3 linked regions of the Homo sapiens genome follow. The protein of the gene in region 2 purifies or fractionates together with the protein of the main gene of each other region. This does not show direct contact. Each region holds a gene or a part of one and is shown on either strand. Other genes may lie near its edges.

Region 1 (3,649 bases), on a different chromosome or scaffold from region 2:
AGGGTTCGGGGAGGGGTGTAGGGAAAGAAGAAGGTGAGGGCTGCCCCTGCCGTGAGCAAGGATAGTTGGTGCAGAGATTCTGTTCAACAATGTATTGAGCACCTTTTATCTGCCAGGGTCCATGGTGGGTGGTGAGGATGCAGTAGTAAGAGACATACCATCATTGCCTTCATAGGACTTACCAACCAGCGAGGGGATTGGCTTGTTTATTCATCGAACCAAGGAGCACCCACTGTGTGCCCGATGCTGGAAATAAAATGGTCTATTCAGCAATTAGAAGACTTAGAAAAAAAAATGATTTGTCCTTTACATGTAATGTAAATAGACCTTAATGTAATAGACCTTATAGGCATGAGATCTCATTTAATTCTCCCAAATAATTTCAAGAGGCAGGTTTCATTATTTCCATTTCACAGTATGGAAACAGGTTCAGAAAAGTAAATTCACTTGGTTAATGTCACACAGCTAGGAAGTGGTGGAGCGAGGGTTCTAACCCCAACGATCTGACATGCAGGTGCCCAGAAGCCCTGCAGAGGCTAATAGAGGGTTGTGGGAGAGAGGGGAGAGGAGCTGAGGTCTGCACACTTGCTCTCTGTGGGAGGCTTCTGTTCAGCTCCACCCCACGCAACCCCATTTTCTTCCCCTCTCCCCGCGACAGTCCGTTTGTCCCTTGGTGTTTTGTGCCCGCGGCAGTGACCGTTGTGTAACAGTGCTGGGGTGAGGGTGGGGAGTCAGAGCTGACCTGGCTACTGGGACAGTGGTGGCTGCCTCTGTGTGTTTTTTCTCTGGCCACAGCACTCAGCAAAATGGACCTTGGTCCCCGGGGTGGGCTGGAAGTGAAGTTTCCGGGTGAACTCTCACCTCTGTTCTCATCCCTTCCCAGATGTTGACACAGACAGTATTTCCTTCAGCTTTTCTGGGACTCCGTCCCCTCCTTATCCCTTACTCCTACACCCCTGACGGCACTTCTGCTCCTCTATCTGAGGGACATGGGTCCCTGCGCCTGTTCCCCCTCAGGCTCTGGCTTCTCAGGGTCCTGGGTGCCCATGTCACTGGGGGGAGGTAGGGCACCGTTGCCCAGGAAGGCAGCCAGGGCCCGGGGAAGGGCAGATAAGGCGCTGCATGTATCAAAGGCTGCTGTGTGGGATTAATGACTCCCAGTGCCCAACTGCTGGGGACAAAGTTCAGAGATGGTGGGAACACGGGTGAGGGAAGGCCTCCTTATTGCTGCTCCTGCCCTTCCAGGCCACCCTGGCTCTCTTCCTGCATTTCTACGGGCCCCTGGGTGAACAGCAGCAGCCTAGGAAGCCTGGGCTGGTTCATTCCTTGACCCTTAGGCCCACTGTTTCTTATTCCCTCCTTACGGGGCAAGGTTGGCAGTCCAGGAATGGTGGGGAGGCGGGTGTGACATAACAGGAATCAGATTCTAGCCTCAGATATTTCTGTTTCTTTCCCCCAGACTCTGGGATGTGAAGAGGCATTCTTGTTTCTCAAGTCCTGGTTCTTCCACATACTACTTCTGTGACTTAAGACAGTTTATTCTTTCTCAGCCCCCATTTGATCATCTGTAGTATGGGAAGGAGTGTAATAATAAATACTACCCATTTGAGAGGGTTGGGAGGAAAGAGATCATGTGTGTAAAATGCTTAGTACTGATAAAATCTTAGTGTTTGCTGAGATGATGATGATGATGAGTGATTATGATGGCAAAGGTGATGATAAAAGTTTGCAGGGGCTGGGCGCAGTGGCTCACGCCTGTAATCCCAGCACTTTGGGAGGCTGACGCAGGAGGATCACGAGGTCAGGAGATCAAGACCATCCTGGCTAACACGGTGAAACCCCGTCTCTACTAAAAATACAAAAAAAAAAAAAAAAAATTAGCTGGGCATGGTGGCGGGCGCCTGTAGTCCCAGCTACTCGGGAGGCTGAGGCAGGAGAATGGCGTGAACCTGGCAGGCGGAGCTTGCAGTGAGCCGGGATCGCGCCCCTGCACTCCAGCCTGGGCAACAGAGCAAGACTCCGTCTCAAGAAAAAAAAAACGTTTGCAGGACCGGGCCAGGCGCGGTGGCTCACGCCTGTAATCCTAGCACTTTGGGAGGCCGAGGCGGGCAGATCATGAGGTCAGGAGATCGAGACCATTGTGGCCAACACGGTGAAACCCCGTCTCTACTAAAATACAAAAAAAAAAAAAAAAAAATTTAGCCGGGCGTGGTGGCACGTGCCTGTAGTCCCAGCTACTTGGGAGGCTGAGGCAGGGGAATTGCTTGAACCCGAAAGGTGGAGGTTGCAGTGAGGCCAGATCGCACCACTGCACTCCAGCCTGGCAACGGAGTGAGACTCTGTCTCAAAAAAAAAAAAGAGTTTGCAGGACCTCAGGCTCTTTCTTAACTCCCTGGAATTATCTCAAAGTTGTACCCAGATGGTCCGACCATTGCATCACAATTGCTTGGGGGTTTCTCTAGGTCCCACCTCCTGAATAAAGATTCCTAAGGGTGGGGCCAGATAATCCTCATTTTGAAGAAACTCTCCAGATGCTTGAAAGGCCTAAGCCCTCTTCAACTCCTTTCCCCACTGTGAGCAACTCTCCCCCAACCCTGTTTTCCCCACATTCCTCCTACTTTCTGGGACCTTTCCCCAGCCCCGCCATCCCATACCTTCCTTGAGCTGGATATTATCCTGTGGTTCTCCTTCTCTTTCCAATTCAGAGGTTAGATACCACAGTCCTTAATTGGTTCTTTTGCTGGTTGAAGGTAAGACAACTCCTCAGGGTGAGAAAGAGCGTGTGGGGAGCGGAGGTAGTCTCACAAGCATGTGTGCCTGTTCTGCCTAGGAGGTTTGAAAGGTTATAGGGCCTCAGGTTGTGACTGTGAGATGGAGGAAGCCTGAGGCAGGGGCTTAATTCGTAGCTCTTGGAGTGGCCACACATCATTCGCCCTGACTGCCAGATCATGGCCCCCTGAATTAGCGGCTAAAATTTGTGAACAGTCATTTTTCCTGGAAAAATCTGTACCATGGTTTTATAAAATTCTTGAAGGAGGATGTGACCACAGAAGATTAACTATCTTAAGTATCCTCGATCTGGAGAGAACAGAGGCAAACAGTGACTGCCTTATTTATTCTCTTGGTCAGGTTTAGGGTAATTCCCGTGGGCTTCCCACATAACGCCTCACCTGCCAAGACTTTTGTAGAGAATTAGGGTGCACAGTGATACCACATTGTATATGCAGAGGAGGGTGGCAGCAGGATACAGTCCCATAAGAAAATGAGGTTCTCTGGTGATGGTCCTTTGACGATGTGTTTGGGTTGGGGTTGAAGTAGTCAGATGAGCCTTGTGCCAGGTCCATGCAGGTGGAGGGGGGGGGTGGGGGGTGGATCCAAATGGAGTACAGATAAATTCCTGCTTCCTTTAAAGAGATTAACATTCACACCAATCTGATAACGCCGCACACACTTTAGGGAGGGGCCTGTGCTTGGGGAAGGCCATACAGAGGAGGGGATGTGTTTGATTTATCTAAAGACTCTGTGCATTCAGTGAACATTTGCTGAGAGTCTACTATGTGCCCTAAACAGAGAAGACTTACATTTTACCCCAGGAAGTTCTTAGTGGTGTAGGGGAATCGGGTAAGTGAGCAAGTAAAAGAGCAGTGGT
Region 2 (4,202 bases):
CTCACGCCTGTAATCCCAGCACTTTGGGAGGCTGAGGTGGGCAGATCCCCTGAGGTGATTGAGACCAGCCTGGCCAACATGGTGAAACCCCGTCTCTAATAAAAATACAAAAATTAGCCTGGTGTGGTGGCAGGTGCCTGTAATCCCAGCTACTCGGGAGGCTGAAACAGGAGAATTGCTTGAACCCGGGAGGCGGAGGTTGCAGTGAGCCGAGATTGTGCCACTGCACTCCATCCTGGGCGACAGAATGAGACTCCGTCTCAAAAAAAAGAAAAAGAAAAAAAGAAAAGACAAAAAAAAAAACAAAAACAAACAAACAAAAAGAAACCCCTCACTTGTAAGCAGACAGAAGGTGCTGTTGGGATTCCCATGCTCTGCCCATGTGTTTACTCCTCCAGCCATGGTGAATCCCAAAATATGCCTCCATTCCTCTGGATTAAACATGTGTGGGGCTGACCGTGGGTGGGGCAAGAGTGCCCATCCCAGTCGAAAGGCATATGCAGTGTTGACCTAAGGCAGCTACATCAGCCTGGGAGAGAGGGTGTCTTAGGCCTGGTCAGGACTGGTCAAGCCAGTGGTCAGCCTGGGACGAGAGGCAAGAGAGGGAAGGAAGATGCCACAGGAGGTGACACATCGTACTTGTTTGACCGTTTTTTCCTAGGATTGGCCCAGCAGAGACAGGATAAAAAGAAGCAGGGAGCACTCAAGTGAGACAAGTCCCCGGGGTGCGTACATATATGGGAACAACCTGATGTGGGGAGCGTAGGCTTCACCGTGCATTTGGCAAGAAAGTGCAACATTATGTGCAAAGTGATCTCCTGATTGCATTTTAAAAATTAAAAGTTCCCAGCATGTGGAAGGTATTTGGTAAGAATTCAGTGAATGGCTGACCTAGGGGTGCCTGGATAAGCACAGCACTTATGTTTTTATAACAGGACAATGGGCAGCGCCGGGCCTTCCCTCTCACATGGGCAAAGGTCAGCAAGTGATCTGAGCCGGGCAGTGCCCACATCCGGAATCAGAAGCCGGAGAGCCTAGAGGAAGGCCCTCCTCACCGCATCTTCCATTACCCCAAGACGTGACTTGCCCGATTTCCTTTCCAATCCACGTTTCTGAGGCGAGCAGCTATGAAAAGTAGCATGTTTATCTCTGCGTGGGAATTGGTGGCACGTTGTGTATTAACTGCGCAGCATTTGTGAAAGTTTTCAGAGCTCTTGGGGAAACCGAGAATGAGAGGAGAAAGAGGCAGGGAGAGGGGTTCTGGAAGCCCAGCGGAGTTCACAGAAGGAATTCCAGGGAGATGGGCAGGGGCAGGGAGAAAATGAGAGCAGGAAGCGGCACTTGTCACAAGTTTTTGTCCTTGGGGCCTCGGCATCCCGCCTGGGCCCAGGACTGGCATCTCCCATTTGAGGGACTGACAGTGTGGCGGACCCTCAACTAGCACAGATAACAAATGAAGTAACAAATGGGACAAAGGAGGGGCGCACGCGGCGCGGGACTCGAGAAGAGCGCCTGGCAGAGCACAAATCCCACAGAAGAAGAGACCTTCTGCCCTCTTTGAGACCTCACCTTCCCCTTGCCCAGGGCCAGGAAGCTCTCCTCGGGCCTCCTCAGAACCCCGGCTGCCTCCCCACCTGTCGTCTACCGCCCTTTGGAGGTTCCGGAGAGGGGCCCGGCCCGGCGAGCCGAAGGCTGCGGGGCGGGGCGCGAGTCTCAGCCCCTGGGACACACAGCCGGTGCGTCCCGCGCCTCAAGTGCGCACTCCAGGAAGTCCGGAGCCGGGAGGATCCGGGCTCGCGGTCCCACCCTACCTCTGGCGAGGTCGGGAGAAAAAAAGCGCCAGATCGCCCGCCTGAGGGCCCAGAAGCCCACCGGGCGGCGGTACAGACTTTCCCGAAATGTCTCCGTCTCCGCGCTGCGAGCGCACAGGAACCCAGGGTCGCCGGGGTTGCCGTGGCTTGGCTGAACGTCCAAAGCCAGGCGAGGGCGGGGGGTCTCAGTCCAGCTATGCGAGCCCTTCTCTAGTGGTGCCAGCTCCTACGCCGGGCTCCCGGGCCGGCGGGAGGCGCGTGTGCCTGTCTGTGTGTGCAGGGGACATTCCGCTTCCCAGTAGCCCATGCAGAACCCCGCCCTCCGCTCCGGCCCCAGGAACCCCTCCCCCAGCTCAGAGATCCCTGCGCGCCCCCTGCCCACTTTGCCAAGGCGAGAAAGCGGCCGTGCTGGAGACAAAGAAACTCCTGCCTCCCTCCACTCTCGGCCCCTCCGCCCGCCCGAGACACTCCCCGGCGCCCTCCCTCGACCCCGGCGACACTGCGCTTGGACACGCCAGGCAGGGGGGCAGGGTGGGCGAGTCCGCTTCCCGACGCGGGCCAGCTGGGGGCTTCCCGTGAACCCCGCCCGGGGACACCCCACAGCAGCCGCGCCCCCACCCTCCTCTCCCCAAACCGTCCCGGGCCCCTGTCGCCGCCACCTTCTGCCAAACCGTCCCCATCTCTCCAGCGGAGCTACAGCGGGGCGCGGCGCACACAAAGGGGGTCGGAGGGTGGAGAGTACAGAAGGAGGGAGAGATCCCGCCAGGGCTCGTGGCACGGGCCTGGGAGCAGCTATTTACCCGATTTCTTCTTCGATCTCTGAGATGTCTGCGAAGATGAGGAAGACCACGAGCAGCGTGAGCGCGGCCAGCATCCAGCTCCGGAACTGCAGCTGCATGGTGGGTTCGCGCCCGCCGGGACCCACGCGGGCCGGCGCGAGGAGCAGGGGCCGGAGGGCGCAGCGGCGGACGCCGGAGCCTCCGCGCGCCGCGCGCAGCTGGGCAGACACCCTGCGCTCCGGACGAGTCCGGGCCGGCGGCGGCAGCGGCAGCGGCAGCGGCAGCGACAGGCAGGGGTTGCTCAGGCGCGGCGAGCCCGCTCGCTCCCTCCCGGCTCCCGCCTGCCCCTCCCTCCCTCCTCTCCCTTCCCCCGCCCCGCGCCCGGCTCCGCGCGCAGTTTGACAGCTTTGCTCCGCGCCTCTGCTCGCCTCCTCCCACCAACTCCAGCGTCCAGGCGCTAGCCTTTGCTTCTCCCGCCTGGCTTTATTCAGCTCCCGAGGGCGCGGGGATGCAGCCGGACGCCACTCCTGGCCTAGAGAGACTGGGCTCTGGCCACCGCGAGCGACCGGGTACGGAGCTGAGCCCAGGGAAGTGCGCGCACCGCCCGGCGCACCCCTCAGGCTGGCAAACGCCCTCCCTCGCCCGCTCTTTGTCCAGCTCCCTCGCCTCCTCGCAAAGTTTTCTCGACACAAAGACCAACACCTGGGGACAGCCCCCAGCGCGCGGCGAGAAGGCGGTTTCAGCCAGGCAGATGTTTCAGCAGTTGATGAATTAGGAGGGGAGGTGGGGGAAGGGGAGGAGAGAAGAAATATCCAAGACAGGCCAACTTCAGTGAAGATGCTGACTACAGTTTGTGGGCGAGGCTCTCAGCCCTCGAGAAACCACTCCCTCCAGGTGCTGATCTTTATCTCCATTTATAGACCCGATACTGGGTCGGGAGAGCTCTCCGAGCTGCCCCCAGATCACGCAGTCCTGGCTGGAACCCTCGGCTAGAACCCCAATGGGAGACTCAGCGCCCGCCTTCCCTCCGCCCTCGCGGTGCTGACGCCGGGTGGCCTTCATCTCCCCAGTTCTTGGACTCTCAATGACCCTAAGATCAATAACCGCGGGAGGCCTGTCTTGATCAAAATGCCTTCTAGAAAAATATGGCTCCCACAAGGGGTAATGCCCCCCACCCTTCCGAATATTGTACACTTTCACAGCCTTAGACAGTTTAAGTCAAATTACATTTCACACCAACCATTGGCCAGGGGTGGGAAGGGCCCCATTAAGTTTTACTGGAATTAGATAATTACCTTTTATTTTCTTTGCACGAATTGGAACAATTCCTGAAATTAAGAAATGTAACTTTCCAGAAATGATCATCTGGTTTATGAAAGGGTCCTTTGGGTTTGAGTGTGGGGAGGAGGAGTCCTGTTGGAGAAGCTACATGGAATGTCCTAAGTGCTGGAAACCACACCCCAGTGAATGGGAGGGGCGTGTCGGCCTTATCCCCTGGACCACTCAGAGGAGTTTGGCGAGGGGCTGGCAGCAGCCAAGTCCCTTCATGGCGCCCCCGGGGATGTAAGAGGGCCTTCTGATTTTCTACCAAAGTACTGCTTGTGCCCAGAGC
Region 3 (2,771 bases), on a different chromosome or scaffold from region 2:
GCCCTGCTCTGGTGACACTACTGCCATTCGTGCGTGCCCCAGCTTTATGGCAATTCCTCCATGAAGCCTTCCCACAGGAAGGTCAGGGTCTCTGTGGCCCACAAGTTAAGTGACCTGCCCTGACATGCGACCTCTGGGAAGATTCTCTATTTCTTAATATTTCTGAGAAATGACATTCTGGAGAGGGTCTCTGATATTTTTCACCTTCTTTTGTGATTTGTGATGTCAACATTTTCCATTTCTGGACTATTTCCCTGGAGTGAGCAAGAATCCTTTCTTCTGAAAAAAATGACTTGAAGTCAGGATTACTTTTTTATTTTTTTATTATTAATTTATCTTTTTTTTTTTTTTTTTTTTTTGAGATGGAGTCTTGCTCTGTTGCCCAGGCTGGAGTGCAGTGGCATCATCTCGGCCCCCTGCAACCTCCACCTGCCAGGTTCAAGTGGTTCTCTTGCCTCAGTGTCCTGAGTAGCTGGGATTACAGGCACTCGCCACCATGCCTGGCACATTTTTGTATTTTTAGTAGAGATGGGGTTTCACCATGTTGGTCAGGCTGGTCTTGAACTCCTGACCTCGTGATTCACCTGTCTTGGCCTCCCAAAGTGCTGGGATTACAGGCGTGAGCCACTACACCCGGCCAGGACCACTTTTTAAATCTCAGTTTCCTCTTCTCTATAAGGGGGCTAGTTGATTTCTCTCAGGAATGTTGCTGAACTGAATGCCAAACCATGGAACACATTCCCCCACCCATTCTATACACAGCTAAATGTCTTTGCCTTTGTACTCCAAGACCCTCTGTACTTTTATTAAAGTCCAGAACAAACAGTTAATGACTACTGGTTCCTGTTGTATTTTCTTTTTATATTCTTGAGGACTCAATACCATGTTGAGCATGTGGTAGGGGATCAAAAAAGTAAAATTTTAATGAATAATGGTGACCTGTGACACCACCCCTGTAAGCAGCAGGCACGCTAGGCATCGGCCTCTCCTGCCCTCCATCTCCTTTCAGTTGGGTAAGCCTCCAAGCACAGAAGGAGTAAAGCACCCTGTGCTCAGAGGCATGTCACTTTTCCTAAACTTGCAAACCTTCAGGTTGTGAGCTGATAACCAAATGGTGTTAAAAGGATTTCAACCCTATCTGATTCCAGGAGGAAGGGAAAGGGAAGGGGCTGTTCTGACTCTGGAGTGTCAAGTGTGTGAATATTCCAAATCTAATAGCTGAGGCTTGGTTCAGTTGTTCTCACTTGCCTCTCTGGAAGGACCCACCTAGATCCCCCAGGCTGCTCCCGGGCCGGGGTGGTCTGGACAGGAGACCCACCCCTTCCACTGACACCTGTCTCTGTTAATGGAATTGGTAGAAGGCATGTTTTGGAGGGACCGGGTGCTATTAGGCTCCTGAGTCACTGCATTTTGGCCCTGTAAGGACAGCCCAGGGTCTACTACAGGGCCTCCTTTGAATTTGACAGTGCTTGGTGAGATCTAGCAATAAATACCTTGGGTAAGTCTGGAGTGATGGTTTCTTACACAGTGTACCTTCTCAATGACTGGCTGGGGTTGTACCAAAAATGAATGAACAGATAGTGCCACTAGGACCTCTGATCCCTTGCTCATGGTAGACTCATTTGAACATTCCTTTAGCCACGACTCTGCACCCCCAAATGAAAACATATTGAATTTACATTCACTGATCATTTTACACTGGACCACCGCCTCCATCGACTATGCCAGTCCCAGCAGCTAGATTATATTCCATGTGCTGGTCCTGTCTTCCTCCACTCCTCCCCGCTGCCTCTTGCATCCACAGTTCATGCTTCTACCAGACCATCCCTGTCAGGGGACAGGAATTTACAGGCAGTTTGCAAAGAGCATCTTCTTCAGTCAGAGACTCTCATTGCAGTTTCCTTTCAGTCACCATATTCCTGAACAGGCTTGGAAACTTGACTTAACCTTGCTGGGCCCTCTTATTTCTTCAGCTCTTCAAGGAGTATGGTAAAAGCAAGATCCAACGATGTGCTGCAGAGGGAGGCTCTCTGCCTATTGAAAAGTACCATGTCCACCAGGGGCCTGCTGTAAATATTTCTGCTACTTCCTCTGGGGGAGATGATGGCTTAATGACAACTTCAATGGATTCTAAAGAGGAAGGCATCCTCTCTGCTCTCTGTTCATGATATGGGGTGGGGCATAGGCCATGCTAAGGTCAGGTCAGGCTGGAGCTGCTGAAACGTACCAAGGTGACTCACTTCCCTGATAACACTGCTGAGAAAAATGCAGGCTTCTTCTTGCCCTTCCTGTATCTGGGACACACCTCTTAGGATGGAAGATATTTGGCACCTGGGAAGAAATGTTAAGTCAGGTCAGGAAGAACTGGCTCTGAGTCTGGGCTTTTCCTTTTGAGTTCAGAAAGAGTTGGGTAAAAACTAAATACATAAATAACCTGTGCTTTGGCTCTGAGTAGCCTCTAAGCCTGAGTTTATAGTCAATGTGACCTTGGGCAAGTTTCTCATGTTCTCTGGGCCTAATTCCTCCTCTTTGAAATTTCCATAATAATATCTGCATCCTGGGGTTGCTTGGAGAAATTTCAATGAGTTCTTAAGTGTAGGAGATGATTAATAACGTCCATTTCTGTCATTTTCCTGCGGTATAAACCATGTCAGGAAGCCGGTTTATTTTGCTTGTTTGTATTTTCTCTTTTACTGTAATGAATGTTTTATTTTTATTAAAATCCAATGGGTTTAATTCTGTAAAAGGCTGACTGCATGAAGAATGCATGA

Evidence for each region.
Region 1: the proteins of ST8SIA2 (region 2) and PCDH1 purify together in Homo sapiens (affinity purification with mass spectrometry; one large-scale study listed by BioGRID and IntAct). This does not show direct contact.
Region 3: the proteins of ST8SIA2 (region 2) and HS3ST1 purify together in Homo sapiens (affinity purification with mass spectrometry; one large-scale study listed by BioGRID and IntAct). This does not show direct contact.

The regions. Positions count from the first base shown.
Region 1 is NC_000005.10:141,871,842-141,875,490, reverse strand, and holds part of PCDH1 (protocadherin-1 isoform 2 precursor), read left to right. Parts: intron 1-3,649. UniProt on the Homo sapiens protein: May be involved in cell-cell interaction processes and in cell adhesion.
Region 2 is NC_000015.10:92,392,572-92,396,773, reverse strand, and holds the start of ST8SIA2 (alpha-2,8-sialyltransferase 8B isoform 1 precursor), read right to left. Parts: upstream 2,894-4,202; 5' UTR 2,710-2,893; coding exon 2,612-2,709; intron 1-2,611. UniProt on the Homo sapiens protein: Catalyzes the transfer of a sialic acid from a CMP-linked sialic acid donor onto a terminal alpha-2,3-, alpha-2,6-, or alpha-2,8-linked sialic acid of an N-linked glycan acceptor through alpha-2,8-linkages.
Region 3 is NC_000004.12:11,395,137-11,397,907, forward strand, and holds part of HS3ST1 (heparan sulfate glucosamine 3-O-sulfotransferase 1 precursor), read right to left. Parts: 3' UTR 1-2,771. UniProt on the Homo sapiens protein: Sulfotransferase that utilizes 3'-phospho-5'-adenylyl sulfate (PAPS) to catalyze the transfer of a sulfo group to position 3 of glucosamine residues in heparan. Catalyzes the rate limiting step in the biosynthesis of heparan sulfate (HSact).